Linked DNA regions of Homo sapiens. The protein of the gene in region 1 purifies or fractionates together with the protein of each later gene. This does not show direct contact. Each region holds a gene or a part of one and is shown in the gene's direction. Other genes may lie near its edges.

Region 1 (3,658 bases):
CTATGGACCCATTTATATGAAACACTTAGATCTCCCTGTGTATGTGTAACACATCTAGGAAAACACTCGAAGAGGAAACACATCAAATAAATGAGAATGAAAACTCTGGGAAGAAGTTGGAGTGCAGGAGAGGTGATTTTTCACACTCTACTTTATCATATATTTATTATTTGAACCTTTTCAGTGAACTGGTATTCACCTTATCACTTAGGTGATACATTTTTAAAAGGCAGAAACCATTTTAAAAAATGACACATACTGGTGATTTTGAATTCTCATACTGCCTTAAAAAATATTGAATGGTAGTTATCTACTGCTTTTTTTTCCTTTTTCTTTGTCTGTTCTTGAAACTATTTTGATCCCATCTGTTCTAGAGAGGAGGGGAAGGAACTGGTTACTTCGTGGACTTCTCTGTGCGGAACTGCCCCAGACACCATTTCCCCAGACACCCCAATGTGAGTATAAGAAATGTCTGTGATCGTTGACTAGAGTCACAGAGAAAAAAGAAAGAGAAGAAGGAGAAGGAGAAGGAGAAGGAGAGGAAGGAGAAGAAGGAGAAGAGGAATGAGAAGGAGAAAATGAGGAGGAGGAGAAGGAGGAAGAAATGTCTGTGAAATACAAAGTATCATCTGGGAAGCACTTAGTACCTGCCAGGCACTCTTCTAAGTGATTTACACATCAGATAACTTATTGTTTTGTTTTGTTTTTGAGATGGAGTTTCGCTCTTGTTGCCCAGGTTGGAGTGCAATGGCACAGTGTCGGCTCACTGCAACCTCCGCCTCCCGGGTTCAGGCGATTCTCCTGCCTCAGCCTCCGGAGTAACTGGGATTACAGGCATGCACCACCACGCCCAGCTAATTTTTGTATTTTTAGTAGAGATGGGGTTTCACCATGTTGATCAGGTTGGTCTCAAACTCCTTATCTCAGGTGTCCACCCACTTCGGCTGGGATTACAAATCAAAGTGCTGGGGTTACAGGCGCAAGCCACCATGCCCAGCCTATGATAACTTATTAACCCTCACACTACCATATGAGATAGATACCATTTTTAATCCCAAATTAGCAGATAGGGGAACTGAGGCACAGAGAACATAAGCGAACCATAAGAACATGATTTTATAATATACATGATATATACCTAAACTTAAAACTAAGTTTCTAACTGATTAGGATTAAAGGCTTAGTTAGAACTATAGCAGTTCGTACTAAGACCCTACGCCAAGTGGTTTTATTAATTCCACATCATCACACTCACAGGAATCCCACTTGACAAATGAGGAGGTAACTGAAAATCAGCAAAGGAAAGGTCTTGCCGATGTTCACAACCAAGCTGAGATTAAAACTTAGTTATTCTCATACAAAGTCCAGTGGGATTTTTCCTCTAATCATTTACAAATAGATTCCCATGTACCTGCCAGAAGACATTATTAATACCACCTGGCATTTGCATGGTGACCTACAGTTAAAGAAACACCTCCACATCTGTTATTGCCAGGAGAGCCTCATGAAAATCCTGCTGACAAGGAAAAGCAAGTATCTGCCTACATTTCCTGTGACAAGGGGACCTGAAATTAAAACCACTTACCTAAAGGCACTTAGCTAGAGAGTGTTAGGAAATGGAATTTTAATTATGATGCCAAGTCCAGGATTTTTCTGAGGTTTAACAACACATTCTCCCTGGTCAAAAGGGAGAAACCATCCATTAGTACCTTTGTTAGCTCTTCTAATGTCCACACTGAACCAGGTCTAGAAACCTTCTTAGCGCCCACCAGAAAAGACACCTCCCTCCCCTACTCCTATGGCCAACAAACCCTTCATGATCTTGGTGTGGATAATGTAAACCCAGAGTTGAAGCACCAGAGCTGAAGAGGAGGCTCAGGGGTAAGTGTTTTACAGCATCCTCTTGTTTAATTAATCCCTCCCACAACCTGTGAGTACATAGTATTATCCCCATTTTACAATGGCTGACTTTCAGAAATCTTTTGTAACTTTCCCAAACTCAGACAACTAGGAAATGGAGAAGCCAGGATTAACATAGGTCTCTCTGATTCCCAAACTGTACTCAGAACCTCAATGCTTAGCAATTTCTTCTAGCAGACAGCCGTCCTCTTGTCCTAGTCGATCTTTCACAGGTGGGTTTAGGAGCATCTGGAGCACAGGAGTGGCAGCCAGTTGTAGCCCTGGCACTTGGGTGGAGTCAGCAGACACTTGCCTTGACAATGTCCATGAAAACCCATCTTTATGCTATACAGATGCCCTCCTGTCCAACACTTTCCTCCAAGGGACCAGCTGAAGTTGTAAAAATCCCTCTTTGACACCATTCCTCATTGTCCTAGGCACAGGCAACTGAGGTCTCCAGTGCAGAAGGGTTGGCCTAAAGGCAAGGCAGCAATGATGTGGTTTTCCTCATCATTTCCATCACCCATGGGGAAGCCCAGTGCTGGTGCCTGCTCATGAAAAAAACCACAGCAACTTTAGTGATACCCTTCACCACCTGCACTTTCCCCAAAGTGTTAACAAGGAAAGATTGCTGAACGACTGGTGGGAATATCTGATCATATTACCCTGATTTTTCTAAAGCACTTCTTCCTTTTCTGAATGTCTGGAAGCTAACTCTGGCTGGTCATCTTCACACCACCTGGACACACACACTAACAGCTCCTCATTCCTTTGTAGGTCTTTGGATTCTGCAGAGCAGATTTGTTCTATGATGTAGAAGCCTTGGACTTGGAAAGCCCGAAAAACCTTGTCATAAACTGTGAAGTCTTCGACCCTCAGGTGGGTTGTCTAAGCAGACTTTGTCATGGCAGTGCCAGATTAAGTGACATACGTACACAAATAGTGTTGTTGCTTCCTAAAGCTCTATGAGTGGGTGTGTGTGTGTGTGTGTGTGTGTGAGAGAGAGAGAGAGAGAGAGAGACAGAGACAGAGACAGAGAGAGGGAGACAGGGAGAGAGAGAAAGAGAGAGACAGACAGACATGCAAGAAAAAAGATACAGAGAGTATCCCACAACTGGGGAAAGGAGTGCAATTGCCAGATTACACAAAAAGTATGAAAACTTTTCCAAGAATTGAAGAGGGGTAACAATTGGCAGAAAATTAAAATCATGTCCAATTCAACCAAACTTGAAGGAATTTGAAAATGCTCTTTGTAGTCGGGACTCTAGTGCTGAGACTTAGTCATTCCTAAGCTTATATTATTGGGCATAGAATCTAAGAGGAATATATCAGCCTCAAATTTATTATGTAAATGTATATAAAATAAGATGCAAAACCATATTTTGCATCTGTCTCAGAAATCTTTGGTCTATTTTTTACATGAGTACAAAGATTTGCTTCACGAAATTTTTCATATCAGAAACAAAACTTAAAATAATCCAAACATCCAATCCCAAGTTAAAAAAAAGAAAAAGGAACAAAGGGCAGGATTGTCACCATGAACATGGCTCTGTCTTTTTTTTTTTTTTTTTTTTTGAGAAGGAGTTTTGCTCTTATTGCCCAGGCTGGAATACAATGGTGCCATCTCGGCTCACCACAACCTCTGCCTCCTGGGTTCAAGCGATTCTCCTGCCTCAGCCTCCTGAGTAGCTAGGATTACAGGCATGCGCCACCATACCTGGCTAATTTTGCATTTTTAGTAGAGAAGGGGTTTCTCCAT
Region 2 (3,658 bases), about 150 Mb from region 1:
GGCAGTTAGTGGCAACCTGGACTGTTAAAGAAATGTCTCTCCATAAGCAGCTGCTGATAGCTAAGGACCTCTAGTGATTTTTGGTGACATTTGCTGAATATTATGACAATAGAAATGATTGACTTTTAGCACAAAGTGATCCATTTAATAATGATATTTTGTATGCCGTGATGATTTTAAAAGCCATGTTCCCTTTAAATGCTACATTTTAGAAATATGGTCATTTAATTATTTAGTTTTAAGAGGGTAGATTAAAGACATATCTTGGAAATCATCTAAAATGACCAGGAACACAAGAAATAGAAACATAAATCTCCAGTTTTGATGAAATGAGAAGGCATATATTTTTATACACACTTGCACACAAACGCACCCTAAATATATTAAGGTAGAAAATGAAGACGAGTTAGGAAGGCTGATGTGACAGAGTAGAGGACACTTAAATCTGCGCATCTACGAAGAAGAGTTTTGATGAGAATTAGTCGTAAGAACAACAATAAGAAAGAACGATCTCGCCCTTTTGAGCACTCACTATTGTCAAGGTCTTCTGGAACTCAGGCACTGGGGGCCTGGGTTTCAAGCAAGGGCAGGGCATTGTTGAAAATGGGAATTTGGCTGGGCACAGTGGCTCATGCCTGTAATCCCAGCACTTTGGGAGGCCGAGGCGGATGGATCACCTGAGGTCAGGAGTTTGAGACCAGCCTGGCCAATATGGTGAAACCCCGTCTCTACTAAAAATACAAAAATTAGCTGGGCGTGGTGACTCAGCATGTCTGTAAACCCAGCTACTCGAGAGGCTGAGGCAGGAGAATCACTTCATCCCGGGAGACAGAGGTTGCAATGAGCTGAGATTGCGCCACTGCACTCCAGCCTGGGCGACAGAGCGAGACTCTGTCTCAAAAAAAATGAAAGAAAATGGGGATATGTGGAAAATATCCACTAGAAGTTATAGTTCCCAAGGCCTGACCACAGGGTTTTCTGTAGAGTGATCAGATCTCAGGCTCACTTTTTGACTGCTAGGGAAAATGTATGTGTGGAAGTCTCTTTTTGGGGGTATCTGTCAGTTTTCCAGGGAAGACTTCACCAGCCTTCTGCAGGGCTGGTGGGGTGCGCATACTCCTCTGCTGGTGTCTGAGAACCAGTGTGGGGAGAGGGACAGGGTCACCCAGGTGAGTAGGAATACTTCACCTGCTTCCTGATTTTAGCCTCATGCCTCCACTTGGCCTCTGCTACGTCTGGTCCCTGACTCCTCAGCCTTTATGGGTAAAGTCTCTAGAATAAACTGCCACTCTCTGGTGAAGAGTGGCTTTGGGAGATATGATCTCTTGGGTGGGTGGGTAGGTGCTGGGAGCGGACCCAGGACCCCAACAGCCTGTTCAAACTTGCAGCCCTGCTTCTAGCTCCATGCCTTACCCCAGCCTCCCGTGGTCCCTCATGCCTGCGCATGCCAATGGGACATATAGCTTGCTTCCCCTCTGGCCCCTCCTTTGTGACTATTTCACTTCCTGCCTTTCCAAAAGTTGTTGAAATCTCATCTGCTGCTTGCTCCCTTCCCATTCTCCCATAAAAGCAATTTATGCCTTTCATAGTCTTCACTGTTGTTTTCATAGGGTTTGGGGAACGAAGCCGAGTGCGTGTGGTCAGTGCCCTGGGCTTATCTGGAATTCAGCTAGTCCTGTTGGCCCTCACTGGAGCCCTTTTGGGGTGGCTGTGCTGCCCTCCTGTGTGATCAGGGGCCTCCTCTTTCTGCTTGGTCCTTCTTGCTGCTGCTGCTGCCCCGCTGCTTCTGCAGAACCAGCTGTCTGGAGTTGGCTACTTATTGACCCATTCTTCAGGAAAGGCTCCTTCAGTTCTCAGCCTGTCTTATTTCCAGGGCATGTGGCCTGCCCAGGAGGTTTAAGAAAATCCACCCTCGGCCAGGCGCGGTCCTCATGCCTGTAATCCCAGCACTTTGGGAGGCCAAGGTGGGTGGATCACGAGGTCAGGAGTTCAAGACCAGCTGGGGCAAGATGGTGAAACCCTGTCTCTACTAAAAATACAAAAAAATTAGCCAGGCGTGGTGGCAGGCACCTGTAATCCTAGCTACTCGGGAGACTGAGGCAGAGAGAATTGCCTGAACCCAGGAGTTGGAGGTTGCAGTGAGCTGAGATTGCACCACTGCATTCGAGCCTGGGCAACAGAGCAAGACTCTGTCTCAAAAAAAAAAAAAAAAAAAAAAAGAAGAAGAAAATCCACTGTCTTTACCTGAGGCCTTAAGCTTGGTGAAAATTCTAGGTCTAAGGGGTGCCCTCAGATACCACCATTCCAGAGCAGCTGAGAACTCCAAATGGAGGGTCCCATGCTTATTCAGGGCCTGTCCTGGCCTCTGCAAGTTAGCAGGTTTTGTGTGTATCCAGGATCTCTACTTATTTCTTGGAGACCAAGCTACTTCCTTGGTCCTAGTTTATTTCTCTCTCTCTTTTTTTTTTGAGATGAAGTCTCGCCCTGTTGCCCAGGCTGCAGTGCAACGGCACGATCTTGGCTTACTGCAACCTCCACCTCCTGGGTTCAAATGATTCTCCTGCCTCAGCCTCCTGTTATTTCTCTTCTAATCGAGTCTAATCAACAATTAGCAGAAAGTCCTTGAAGTTTCCACTATCTGGCATGTGGTTGCCCTTCCTAGTAACTAGTGCTGATGCATGGTGGCACTTCTGTTTAACTGCATTGTCGGAGGAAGTGGGGTGACAGACACCTGCTGATATGGTTTGGATCTGTGTCTCCACCTAAATCTCATGTCCAGTTGTAATCCCCAGGGTTGGAGGTGGGGCCTGGTGGGAGGTGATTGGATCATGGGAGTGGATCCTTTATTAATGGTTTAGCACCATCCTCTCTGTGCCATTCTCATGATAGTGAGTGAGTTATCATGAGACCTAGTTGTTTAAAAGTGTGTAACACCTCCCCGCTCTCTTCCTTCTTCTCTGGCCATGTGAAGTGCCGGCTCCCTGTTTGCCTTCTGCCGTGATTGTAAGTTTCCTGAGGCCTCCCCAGAAGCAGAAGCTGCTATGCTTCCTGTATAGCCTGCAGAACCATGAACCAATTAAACCTCTTTTATTTATAAATTACCCAGTCTCGGTTTTTTTTTTTTTTTTTTTTTTTTGACAGAGTCTCGCTCTGTCACCCAGGCTGGAGTACAGTGGCACAATCTCAGCTTACTGCCACCTCCGCCTCCTAGGTTCAAGTGATTCTTGTGCCTCAGCCTCGTGAGTAGCTGGGACTACAAGCATGTGACTACACCTGGTAATTTCTATATTTTTAGTACAGATGGGGTTTCCCTATATTGGCCATGCTAGAGGTATTTCTTTATAGCAATGTGAGAACAGACTAATATACCTGCTCTCAAACTTACATTTTTCTTTTCGTTCCATTTTAAAAACCAGTTTTATTGAGGTACTATTTATATACAATATATTTATCAATTTTAAGTGTATAATGCAGTAAGTTTTGACAAATACATCCAGTCCTGTAACTGCCATCATAGTTACGACATAGAATATTTTCATCACCCCTGAACAATTTCCTCTTGTCCTTTTGTAGTCAAGTTTTTGCTGTAACCCCTGACTTCTGGCAGCCACTGATCTGATCTCTGTCATAGTTTTCCCATTTTCCTTAATTCAGATTA
Region 3 (2,576 bases), on another chromosome or scaffold:
AAAGAATTATAGGGGATTGTGGCTCATCCCTGCAATCCCAGTACTTTGGGAGTCCGAGGTAGGAGAATCGCTTGAAGGCAGAAGTTGGAGACCAGCTAGGGCAACATAGCAAGACCCTATCTCTACAAAACATGAAAATTAAAAAAAATTAGTTGGATGTGGTGGTGTGTGCCGGTTGTCCCTGCTAATTTGGAGGCTGAGGCATGAGGAGCTCTTGAGCCCAGAAGTTTGAGGCTGCAGTGAGCAAGATCGTGCCACTGTACTCCAGCTTGGGAAACAGAGCAAGACCCTGTCTCTAAAAGAAAAATAAAAGAGTTGCAAAGAATATTAGGGTTTTATGTTTATGAGTTTAGTGTTTGCTCTGTTGGTTTCGTGTTTCTGAAGAGTCTGCTCTACCACTGGAAAACTATGGTCAAGTCAGTGATAAAGTCTAACAATACTTTGCTTTTTGCAAATAGCCACTGTGTCTCAGGAATGGGATTTAACAAGGGGCAGTACCTGTCACTGGATACAGAGGTCGATGAGGAAAATGCTCTGTCCCCAGAAGCATGCTACGAGTGCAAAATCAACGGCTATTCTAAGAAAGACAGCAGGCAGAAGAGAAGTATTCATGAACCTGATCCCACTGCTGTGAGTATATCCCACTCTGTGTTGCCACAAAATTTTATCCCTACGGAGTCATGTATACAGTGCAGTTCACGTCGTTTTCAGCCTCACTGAAGTTAATCATACCTTGAATTTAATGGATAAATTAATGGACCCAGTATGGAAAAGACAAGTAAATTAAAGTGATTGAATTATTAGATCAAAACACAAAGCTTGGGAGAAAAGACTTTAAGATTCACAGTTTCAGAGCATTTTCTCTTGTTGTAGTTTTTGATTTATGTGGGAGGGTATGTCCATCTCGGGAAGAGCTATTTTTACATGATTCAAAAAATGAAATTATTTTTAATTTGTTCAGTTCTGTTTTATAAATGTATAGCATACAAGGCTGATTTTAATTTTCACTAGGGAAACCAAGTAGGTCTCATATTCTTTGTTTTATTTTTAAGACAGTTGTTCCTTCATTAAGAAGTTTTGTCTTCCAAATCACTTGTATTCTTTAAGGAACTGAAGTTGGAAATTGCGAGCCACTGATATTTCCTTTCCCTAATTGCATTTTGGCAGTGTTTAAAGGGGTGGGCTGCAGACTACCTGGTTTTGAACGTAACTCCCTGGCCCTCCCTATCTGTTACCTCTGTTACATAGTTTGTGTTTATTTAACTTCTCTCAACCTCAGTTTTTTCACCTGTAAGATGGGAATAATAATACCTCTGAAGGCTGATGGAAGGGTTAATTGAATTGAAACATGTGAACTGCCTGGAACAATGCCTGACATATATATCACATGTGTTCAGTTCCTATGAATGATTAATATCTCATATCTAGAGATCTTGATGATTTTCCCAAAGATCTGAGACAGTATGAGGTCGTCACTCACCACTCTCTGCAGTTAATATGACTGAGAAATTACCCCACCAAAAAACCTAATCAACAACTGGCTGGCTGTGTGAATTGGACAACTTGCTTCAGTTTTTTGGGCCTCAGAATCTTTGTCTATATGACCTGACTTGTCTAGCCAAAAAGTTCATGATGCTATTTTATAATAATAAATAAGCCAGTGTTACATTTACCTTAAGTAGACTAAGATACCCAACTGATGTTTGACAGTTGAGATATTCATCAAGTTCCCAAACTACAAATCCAGAAGTTCTGCTTATAAACTTTCCCATTGGGGTACTAGGACATAATTCTGCCTGAACACTGATGGGCACTTCTGGGTCACCACTGCCAAGTCCTCACTTAACAGATGCCCAATCAAAGCATTGTGGTTTTTATCCTATCTTACTTTGATATATTTGTGCTCCTCCCAACCCTCTGAGCAAAAGTCAGACTTGGTTTATCTGGGCCCTGCCCCACTGGCTTTTACCAAAGATGCTGGTTTGAACTGGAGCCCTGAGAACTCTGCAGATCACTCACTCTGTGTACCTCTGATAGCTCCCAGTAAACTCACTCATCATTCACTTACCTTACAAATCAAAGCCCAGCTTTCAGACAGAAGATTCCCCTGGGCGCATTCCCTGCTGATGCCCAACAGCAGTACTTCTTATTTTGACTCCAGAAAAAAAAAAATCATTACCTAAATTTTAGTTTTTAAAAATTATTAATTAGCACAATATTTCATAAACTCATCAAAAAAAACTTGAAATGGGAACACTCTGTAAGCCCAGTCCTGTACCTTTAATTACCTTGTTAAGGCTGAGTGAGAAGTCCTAAAGATTTACAGGGTATTCTCGATGGAATTGGCCTTTTCTTCCAACTGACAAAAATGTACAATAGCCTCTTTCACAGCCACTGCTGGTAAGGAGAGTGCAGAAAGCGGGAGTGGGAAGCCACAGCCTGTCCTCGTGACCAAAGCCCCTGCAGCTGATCTCTTTCTAGTCCTCTGCTTGTGCTGTAGAAGCTTGTCCCAAATCATTTCCTGTTCTTCCTCCAGGTTGAACAGATCAGCCTAGAGAGTGTCGACATGGACAGCC

What was found.
Region 2: the proteins of HRG (region 1) and CRTAP purify together in Homo sapiens (affinity purification with mass spectrometry; one large-scale study listed by BioGRID and IntAct). This does not show direct contact.
Region 3: the proteins of HRG (region 1) and FBN2 purify together in Homo sapiens (affinity purification with mass spectrometry; one large-scale study listed by BioGRID and IntAct). This does not show direct contact.

Annotation. Positions count from the first base shown.
Region 1 is NC_000003.12:186,672,413-186,676,070, forward strand, and holds part of HRG (histidine-rich glycoprotein precursor), read left to right. Parts: intron 1-374; coding exon 375-455; intron 456-2,676; coding exon 2,677-2,778; intron 2,779-3,658. UniProt on the Homo sapiens protein: Plasma glycoprotein that binds a number of ligands such as heme, heparin, heparan sulfate, thrombospondin, plasminogen, and divalent metal ions. Binds heparin and heparin/glycosaminoglycans in a zinc-dependent manner.
Region 2 is NC_000003.12:33,120,514-33,124,171, forward strand, and holds part of CRTAP (cartilage-associated protein isoform 1 precursor), read left to right. Parts: intron 1-3,658. UniProt on the Homo sapiens protein: Necessary for efficient 3-hydroxylation of fibrillar collagen prolyl residues.
Region 3 is NC_000005.10:128,259,790-128,262,365, reverse strand, and holds part of FBN2 (fibrillin-2 precursor), read left to right. Parts: intron 1-458; coding exon 459-630; intron 631-2,536; coding exon 2,537-2,576.